Linked DNA regions of Homo sapiens. The protein of the gene in region 2 interacts with the protein of the main gene of each other region in a pairwise test. Each region holds a gene or a part of one and is shown on either strand. Other genes may lie near its edges. The genes, in order: DOK7 and MPZL1.

Region 1 (4,542 bases), on a different chromosome or scaffold from region 2:
CCATCAGCCCGGGGGCAGGCGCGGAACTTCCAGCCAGCTGTGGGGGGCAAGGTTTGGGCTGGCTGGGGGGAACTGGGCTCTGCCCAGCAGTCCATGTCTTGGGCCAGATCCCTCGGGTTTCTGAGTTTCAGCTTCCCCCCACCATGGTGACTCCAAGACCCTGCCAGCTCCAGGACTCGGGCCCTCCCGGTGGCTTTTCTGAGCTGGATGAAGCCCCCAGGGGCAGCCCCTGTGGGAAGCAGGCCCCCTCAAGTGTCTGGCCTGGGGCCACACTCTCCACAGGATGTCAAGAACACTTTCCTCACCACCCCCAGCCCCCGCACCTGGGAGGAAGAAGAGAGGGGCTGGGCCAGGCGCCGCTGGCATGCAGGGCCACCAGCAGTGAGTCCTGGGCCACAACTGGACACAGACCACCCTCCTCCCCCGGGGCCCTGCCCAGAGAGGGGACGCAGACACGCATTCCGCAGTGAGGACGCGGTGGAGACATTGAGGAACGTGGTCCCACTGCAGGGCACCCTGCAGTCCCACACCGAGGCAGACGGCCCGACGTCCACTGGCCATGCCAGGCGCTGTGGCTGAGCAGCCCTTTGATAAAAGGGTTTCCCTTTCATTCGCTAAACCTTGTCATAACAGAAAGACGTGCTCACGATTGAGAAAAACGCAAGGAGGAGAAAGGTGCCAGTGGAAAAGGTGCACATCGGGGCCCTTCCCAGAAGGAAATCACCACTGGTAACAAAAAGAACCCTGCCTGTCTTACAAGGAAGCAGACGGGACCCTTCCTCTCTCCCTCACACCAGGAGCGCAGGGTCTGTGCTGTCTGCTCCTCCAGGGCTGGGGCCTGCTCCCTCCACGCCGGGCCCATCCACAAGGGAGGTGGTCTCCAGCGCTGAGCGGGAAGGCAGCTGGGTGAAGGCAAAGGGGGCAGCATCTAGGGAGGCTTATGAGGGGCCAGGGGAAGAGGCATCAGGGCCTCTGAGCGGAGAGGAGGTGCCAGGCTGGCCTGGTCAGGGTGGGGAGGTGGGCGTGAGAACTCCGCTCTGTCCCATCCCCTCATCTGACCGACCTCTGGGCAACCCCACAGGGTGTCAGTTTCAACCCTGGGCTGCTGGAGTGACCAACACAGAAAGCAGGTGTCCAAAGCAATGGGTCCCAGGCCAGTGAGTCAGTGGGTGCTAGGGACACCTGGCCTCAAGGCTTGGAATGAACATCCACCCAGAGGGGGCATGGCACCTTCTACTACCCCACATCACCTCCCACGCCAGCCCCAGAAGGCTGCAGATCTCAACTGCGCAGGATACGGGATAACCCAGCAGACGCTCGGGAGCCACCATGTTCACCTACAGACTCACAGATTGTCCCACCTGGGGGACCCATTGCAAACTCCTGTCACTCCACTCAGGCACTCACCGGCCGGGGGAGCACACCCTCTTGAGGCTGGCAGGCCCTGCCTCCTGGGACTGTCTGATGCAGAAAGAAAATCCCTCCAACAGGGACAAAGACTTCTCCCCCGACACTCCTCTTTGGGGGCTGCTGTCCCGGGTGCCTTCCTGGGATGCGGCCTCTCTGGAGGGTCTGCACCGGCTCCAGCCCAGCACCATCCACCAAGCATCACCTGCCCCACCACGGCCCCGACCCAGCCACAGCTGACTAAAGCCTGTCATCCGCCCCAGCCTGGCAGGGCCTCTCACTCTGCCCAGACCCCATCCCTTCCTATACCAGGTCCCCTGCAGCCCCGGAGGACAAAGACGCCCTCCCAGGCTCTGTCGGTGCCCCCACAGCTCCAGGCAGGAGGTCTGGGCACGGAGGGCTGAGTGGAGAAGTGACCAGCGTGCAGTCCAGGCCCTGCAAGGGGAGGCGGAGGCAGGCAGGAAGTGCTTTCCTCCAGGACCACCTGAGGCCCTGCAGAGGGGACGCAGGAGGGATCCCTGCCCCACACCCTCCCTGGGAGTCACAGACACCCGTCCTGGAGGGTGCTCTGGCAGCCCCCTGGCGTACAGCCCCCCATGCACACAGGCCGAGCATCCCACCCAGACCCGGGCCTGGCCGGCTCTGCCGCACCTGTCCTCTGGAGCAGCTGCAGGCCCGGCTCAGCCCTCCCTACAGGCCCAGCGCTGCAGGCGGCCTGGGCTGCCAGACCTGGGGGCTCCATGCTGACCCTCCCCAAGCTGGGGTGCTGGCTCAGGGCGGGGACTGGGGGGGGACCCCTGCCTCCTCCCAGAGGACTGTTCCCCCAGCAATGTGGCAGTCACTCTGCCCTGCCCTACCGCAGCCCAGCCTCTCGTCTGCCTGGGAGGGGTCCAGGGTCAGCGCTAACCCACGCAGCACCCCTGGAGGCTGGGTTCGGGGGCCCTGCTCTGAGCGTTTCCACAAGCACAGCTCAACCCTCAGGTATGTGGGGCTTTGCTTCTGGGGGGCCCCTTGCTGCTCTGCTGGGGGGCTCAGGGCCTGCGTCCCCTCCGCCTACAGGGCCACCAGGCAGCCCCTCGGGCCTCAGTCTGCCCTGCTGGAAAGAGGGTTCTTCCGTCCAGGGCCCCCACCTGCGCTCCCAGGGGCGCCGGGGGGTCCGGGTCCGCACGGGGCTCTCGGGTTTCCCGGCGGGGTGACAGCGGCGGCGATTTTGGGCAAGCTGGCATTACTGCCCCGGGCCTCGGTAACCCGTGTCGCTACCCCCGCGCCCCCCGTCCCCCGCCCGCCCCGCTCACCTGCCACGGGCGACGGCTTCCGCAGCACCAGCCACCTACTCTTCCACTGCGGGGACAGGGGGGAGCGTGAGCCGCCGCCCGCGCCCGCGCCCCCCCCCCCCGCGCCCCCGACGCGCCCCGACCTTCTTGCCGTCCCGCAGCTTGACCTGGCCCTCCACCAGCGCCGCCTCGGTCATCTTCTGTCATGGTTCCGCGCCGCCGCGCTCGCCCCGGCGCCCCAGCCCAGGGTCACTTTCAAAATAGCTCGCAGGGCCCTGGGCTGGGCCAGGAGGGCGGGCCCGCGGGCAGGGCGGCGACACCGGCGACTCCAGGGCCGGCGCGGGCGGGGCTCCTTCTCCTGCGGGCGGCTCCCCCACCCCCACGGGCCCCTCTGGCCCCACCGTCCCGCGGCGGCCACTGGAGCCGCCCGCCCTCTGGAGCAAGCGCACCATCTGGGCTCAGACGCTCAGACCAGCGCCTGGCGGGGCGGGGGTCGGGCGGGGACTTCTTTTTCAAAAAGCAGAGACAACCACCTAGCAGACATCGGCCCCGCTCTGGGCACTGCTCCCAACTTTAAAGTTGGTCTTCAAACAATCCGGCTTCCCAGACTGGCATCTGCCCCTACCCCAGGGGTCACTAGACACCCGGACAACAGACTGGCCACAGGCAGCCCAGGCCTAGGATGCTCTCACATCCCCAGGCTTCCCCCACACTGAGGTGACCCCTCCCCAGGCAGGCAGTAGGGGTCGGGGAGCCCCTGGCAGCCTCTGTCTCTTCCTCCATTTCTGTTCCCATTAAAAGCCTGCAGGGACCCCAGTGCAGGTGGGCGGGTCCAGGACCCACAGTGCCGCCTCAGGGCCCCAGGTCTCCACCTCTTCTGCCCCCATCCCAGGCAAGAGCAGGCCCTGGTTAGGCCAGCCGGCTCCGATGGGCAGAGGAGCTGCCTGCTTTGTAAAGGACCTGCCAGCAGCCCTCCCAGCTGGGTGGACTTTGCGCTTCTGGACTCCCCCTCCTTGACCCTGTGGCTCCAGTCCAGCTGTCCCCAAGCTCTGGCCTGGGCATTAGATGTCACATCCAGGTTCTTCTGCAGAGAGGCCATGTGCTTTGGGGGACCTGGCAGGTCCGTGCCTTGGGTGTCAGCCCCATCCGAGAGACGGCCTCCACCACCCTGGGGTTGGGGACACCCAGCAGATACGGGAACAGCAGTGGGGAGGGGCGATGGCACCCTAGAAGATAAGCACCTGGACAAACAGCAAAGCTCCGTCCACATGCCCTACCCTAGACCCCATCCTCACGGGGCTGACGGTTCTCGGGGGAGAAGAAGGAAGGGGTAGACAGTGTCCCGTTAGGGAGGAGACGTCTTCATTTCATCCCATCCAGACCCTAGGCTGGGCTCTGTCTGCCTCGCACTGAGGAGCAAATGGAATCAGGGCAGCGTGAGGCCTCACAGCCAGGACTGAGCCACATCGGCTGACCTCAGAGCAGGGCTCAGAGGCATCGGGAGCCCTGGGCGCCCCTCCCCACTGCCCCTGTGATCCAAGAGACAGGTCTCCGGTGGGCCACAAGGGTTGGCTTTGGTGCTTCGGTGATGTCTTGTCAGGGCCTCATGCAAGGCGGGGGACACCAGGCCCAGGAAGCAGAATTTTGCATCCCCCACCCACCCCCGCAGTCACCTGTGCAGCCACCAGCCGCCTTCCGCAGAACAGTTGCTGGGTCACAGAGCCCCATTCATGCTCCCCACACATCCCAGGCCCCCAAGGGGCTGGCCCAGGACAGCCGGTGCGGAGGCGGGGGCCGTTGGGGCTGTAGCCACAGACACATCCGCTGCCCTGGGCGCCTGGCACTTGCTTATCCCTACAGG
Region 2 (3,802 bases):
AAGCCAACAAGCTAATCGAAAAGTCTTAAGGCCAGGTGTATTTCAGAATATAGAATTTTTCAGATTTTAAAAAATTAATACAATACCTATACTATATATTATGTAGTAGTCCCTAGAGAGTACAGGGCAGCATCCCACAATCAAACACATTAATATCTCTGCGGTGAAAAATACAATTAGTCATACCAAATAGGATCACAGTTGTAAACAGTATCTTACTACTTCAGGTTGAATTTTGCAGCCAAAGAATTTGTATCAAACTTAGGAAAAAACTTAATTTTCAAAGTATTTGTGGCTTTGCAGTTACAGATAAAAAAACTGTGGACCTATAACTTGTTTTTTGGTTTATTTTTACTTTGTAGAGATGGGGTCTTGCTATTTTGCCCCAGCCAGTCTTGAACTCCTGGCCTCAAGTGATCCTCCTGCCTCCTTAGCATTTTCTGATCCCCCTTTTTTTTTTTTGAGACACAGTTTTAGGCTGGGTGCGGTGGCTCACGCCTGTAATCCCAGCAGTTTGGGAGGCCAAGGCGAGGGAATCACGAGGTCAGGAAATCGAGACCATCCTGGCTAACATGGTGAAACACCGTCTCTACTGAAAAAATACAAAAAATTAGCCGGGTGTGGTGGCGGCTGCCTGTAGTCCCAGCTACTTTGGAGGCTGAGGCAGGAGAATGGCATGAACCTGGGAAGCAAAGCTTGCAGTGAGCCGAGATCGCGCCACTGCACTCCAGCCTGGGCGACAGAGCAAGACTCCGTCTCAAAAAAAAAAAAAAAAAAAAGACACAGTTTTACTCTGTCGCCCAGGCAAAAGTGCAGTAGCACAATCTCGGCTTACTGCAACCTCTGTCCCCCAGGTTCAAGCGATTCTCGTGCCTCAGCCTTCCCGAATAGCTGGGATAACAGGTGTGTGCCACCATATCCAACTAATTTTTTCCATTATTAGTAGAGATGGGGTTTCATCATGTTGGCCAGGCTGGCTTCAAACTCCTGACCTCAAATGATCCGTCCACCTCAGCCTCCCAAAGTGCTGGGATTACAGGCGCGAGCCACGGCACCCGGCCCATTTTCTGGTCTTAAATCCATATTATTCAACCTGATTACAAATTAGCATCACCTCTGTTCATTATTAATCCATTCACCAATTTCATTAGTGTGCAAGGTTCAGCAAGCCTCACTGCAGTTCTTCTAAATTTGCAGTCACTGAAGAAAAAAAAAGAATTAAATTCCTAATAGCTGAAAATGATCAAGACTCAAAGTTCCCAAGAGTTAACAGACAAGTGCTAGACCTCCAACTTGTGGCAGACAACATGGCTACAGAACCTCTGTCAATGGGGCAGAGGAGCCAAGAAGAGGTACAAGGGAGGAGACTTTGGTTTGGATGCCTGGGCCTGTTTGGACATTCTGTAAGGCAAGCATGCCAGGAGTCTAATGGCAAAAGGACCTGCACAGCCTCCAGAGAAGAACTCATCTCAAAGGAAGAAAGTCAAGGCTTAGTGGCTTCTTCCACATGTAATGTGTAATGAGGGGCAAGGAACCATTCTGAGCCCAGTATGGTATCACTCAGTATAATGGATTCATGCTTGTGCTCTTGATAGCGGGAGAGGTATGAGTGAGAAGAACCTACAAGAACCACATCAGCTGACATGGTGGCTCATACCTGTAATCCCAACTCTTTGGGAGGCTGTGGCAGGCGGATCACCTGAAGTCAGGAGTTCAAGACCAGCCTGGCCAACATGGTGAAACCCTGTCTCTACTAAAAACACAAAAATTAGCCAGGTGTGGTGGCAGGCACCTGTAATCCCAGCTATTAGGAAGGCTGAGGTGGGAGAATCACTTGAACCAGGGAGGTGGAGACTGCGCTGAGTGGAGATCGTGCCACTGCACTCCAGCCTGGGCCATATCAAGAGACTCTGCCTCAAAAAAGAAAAGAAAGAAAGAAAAAGAAAAAAAAAAGAACATCATTAAAAATCCCTGAGGAGCATTTAGAGTATTGGGTGGCACAAACAGATTCTGCATGATTGGTGAGGATGGCTTCAACACGGCAGCTTTATTCCTCTTTAACAGAGTCAGCAGCATCAAGGCATGAGGGATCTTGGCACAAACATCACCCCAAAGAAGAAATCTGGATGCCCCAGGACAGCTAAAAAGCCACTCTGTAAACACTTAAGACATTCCAGAATCTTCCCCAAAATGTTTAGAGACTTTGAAGAAAAAATTCTATAATACAGCAGGGTGGTTGCAAACATGTGCTTTGGAAATTGAGTCTCAACTCTACCATGTATTAGCTGTGTGATCTTAAGACCCTTAAGTTACACAATCTCTCTGAAACTTACTCTTCTTATCTATAAAATTAATAAAAATAATTATTGCACAGAGCTGTGAGGAGTATATAAGTAAATCGTTTAGCAAAGGCGTGGCACATAGTAAGCACTCAATAAATGAGAGCAGAGCAGAAGATATAACATGAACCTAGTTCTATGCCCTAACTTCTAAGGGCTAAGAAACAGAAAAGGGAGAGGGAGAAGTTAAAACATCTCCCTAACTGCTCACTCACTCTCTTTCTCTTCTCTTTTCAGACATCTAGGAGATTTCAAATATTTGCATTTTACCACATTTCTCTTAGGAACCTGAGTCCTCTATCTATGCTTCCTAATTCTCAGCAACACCCTTTGGAAGAAAGTATATAGCAATGATAACCTGGACTTGACTAGAGAATAACTATTAGACACTGTCTGGCCACAGGGTCACTAGGTTCTCATTGAAGCTAAGCTGACAATATAACACCTTATAACTTTTCATCTTTTCAAGTTTACCAAGTGTTATCTGGAAGAAGCACATGATTATGTTAAATGTATATAACTCCACATTGTAAACTTAATGTTTGGAGAGAAAAGAACACATTTCTTAATTTTAATAACAGCATCTTTTTTTTTTTTTCTTTTGAGACAGGGTGTCTCACTCTATCACCCAGGCTGGAGTGCGATGACACGATCTCAGCTCACTGCAACCTCTGCCTCCCAGGCTCAAGCGATTCTCATGCCTCAGCCTCCCAAGTGGCTGGGATTATAGGTGTGCGCCACCACCCCCAGCTAATTTTTTTTTTATTTTCAGTAAAGATGGGGGTTTTATCATGTTGTCCAGGCTGGTCTTGTACTCCTTAGCTCAGGCAATCCACCCGCCTCAGCCTCTCAAAGTGCTGGGATTACAGGCATGAGTCACCATGCCCGGCCGATAACAGCATCTTTTAAAATGCACGTAATAAACTCCCCAGATCCTAAAGTAGAATATCAGGGTCCCAGTATGAAAAAATGTTCATTGCAAGTTCATCAAGGTCTGTTCAGTTGGTTGCAGCATGCTCCTAACAAAACTTAAGTCATAGATTTCATTCTATGGGGCAATCTTATCTGCAATACACAGGATAGGCAAAGACATACTGCATTTCTAACTCCAATCAATTAAACCTAAGTACTGGATTCAGTGTATCACTGTTGCTACAAAATTACTCAAGCTCTATGTTCTAACAATAAGATCAGAGGTATCATAAGGTATCACAGTTTCTAGAGACTCTGAGTTTAGAAGAAGAAACCTACTGAAGGAGGATTTATCAATGAAATCATCTTGGATAAAGGCCTAATGGGATCAAGAAAAAATTGTTAAGTGAATAAAAAATTACAGTAGCCACATGCATTGAAAAAGACAATGAATAGGTTGGGCACGGTGGCTCATGCCTATAATCCTAGCATTTTGGGAGGCCGAGGCGGGTGGATCACCTGAGGTCAGGAGTTCGAGACCAGCCTGGCCA

What was found.
Region 1: the proteins of MPZL1 (region 2) and DOK7 interact in a two-hybrid assay, tested with the Homo sapiens proteins (one large-scale study listed by BioGRID).

The regions. Positions count from the first base shown.
Region 1 is NC_000004.12:3,461,712-3,466,253, reverse strand, and holds the start of DOK7 (protein Dok-7), read right to left. Parts: upstream 2,949-4,542; 5' UTR 2,879-2,948; coding exon 2,825-2,878; intron 2,749-2,824; coding exon 2,703-2,748; intron 1-2,702. UniProt on the Homo sapiens protein: Probable muscle-intrinsic activator of MUSK that plays an essential role in neuromuscular synaptogenesis. Acts in aneural activation of MUSK and subsequent acetylcholine receptor (AchR) clustering in myotubes. Induces autophosphorylation of MUSK.
Region 2 is NC_000001.11:167,728,412-167,732,213, reverse strand, and holds part of MPZL1 (myelin protein zero-like protein 1 isoform a precursor), read right to left. Parts: intron 1-3,802. UniProt on the Homo sapiens protein: Cell surface receptor, which is involved in signal transduction processes. Recruits PTPN11/SHP-2 to the cell membrane and is a putative substrate of PTPN11/SHP-2.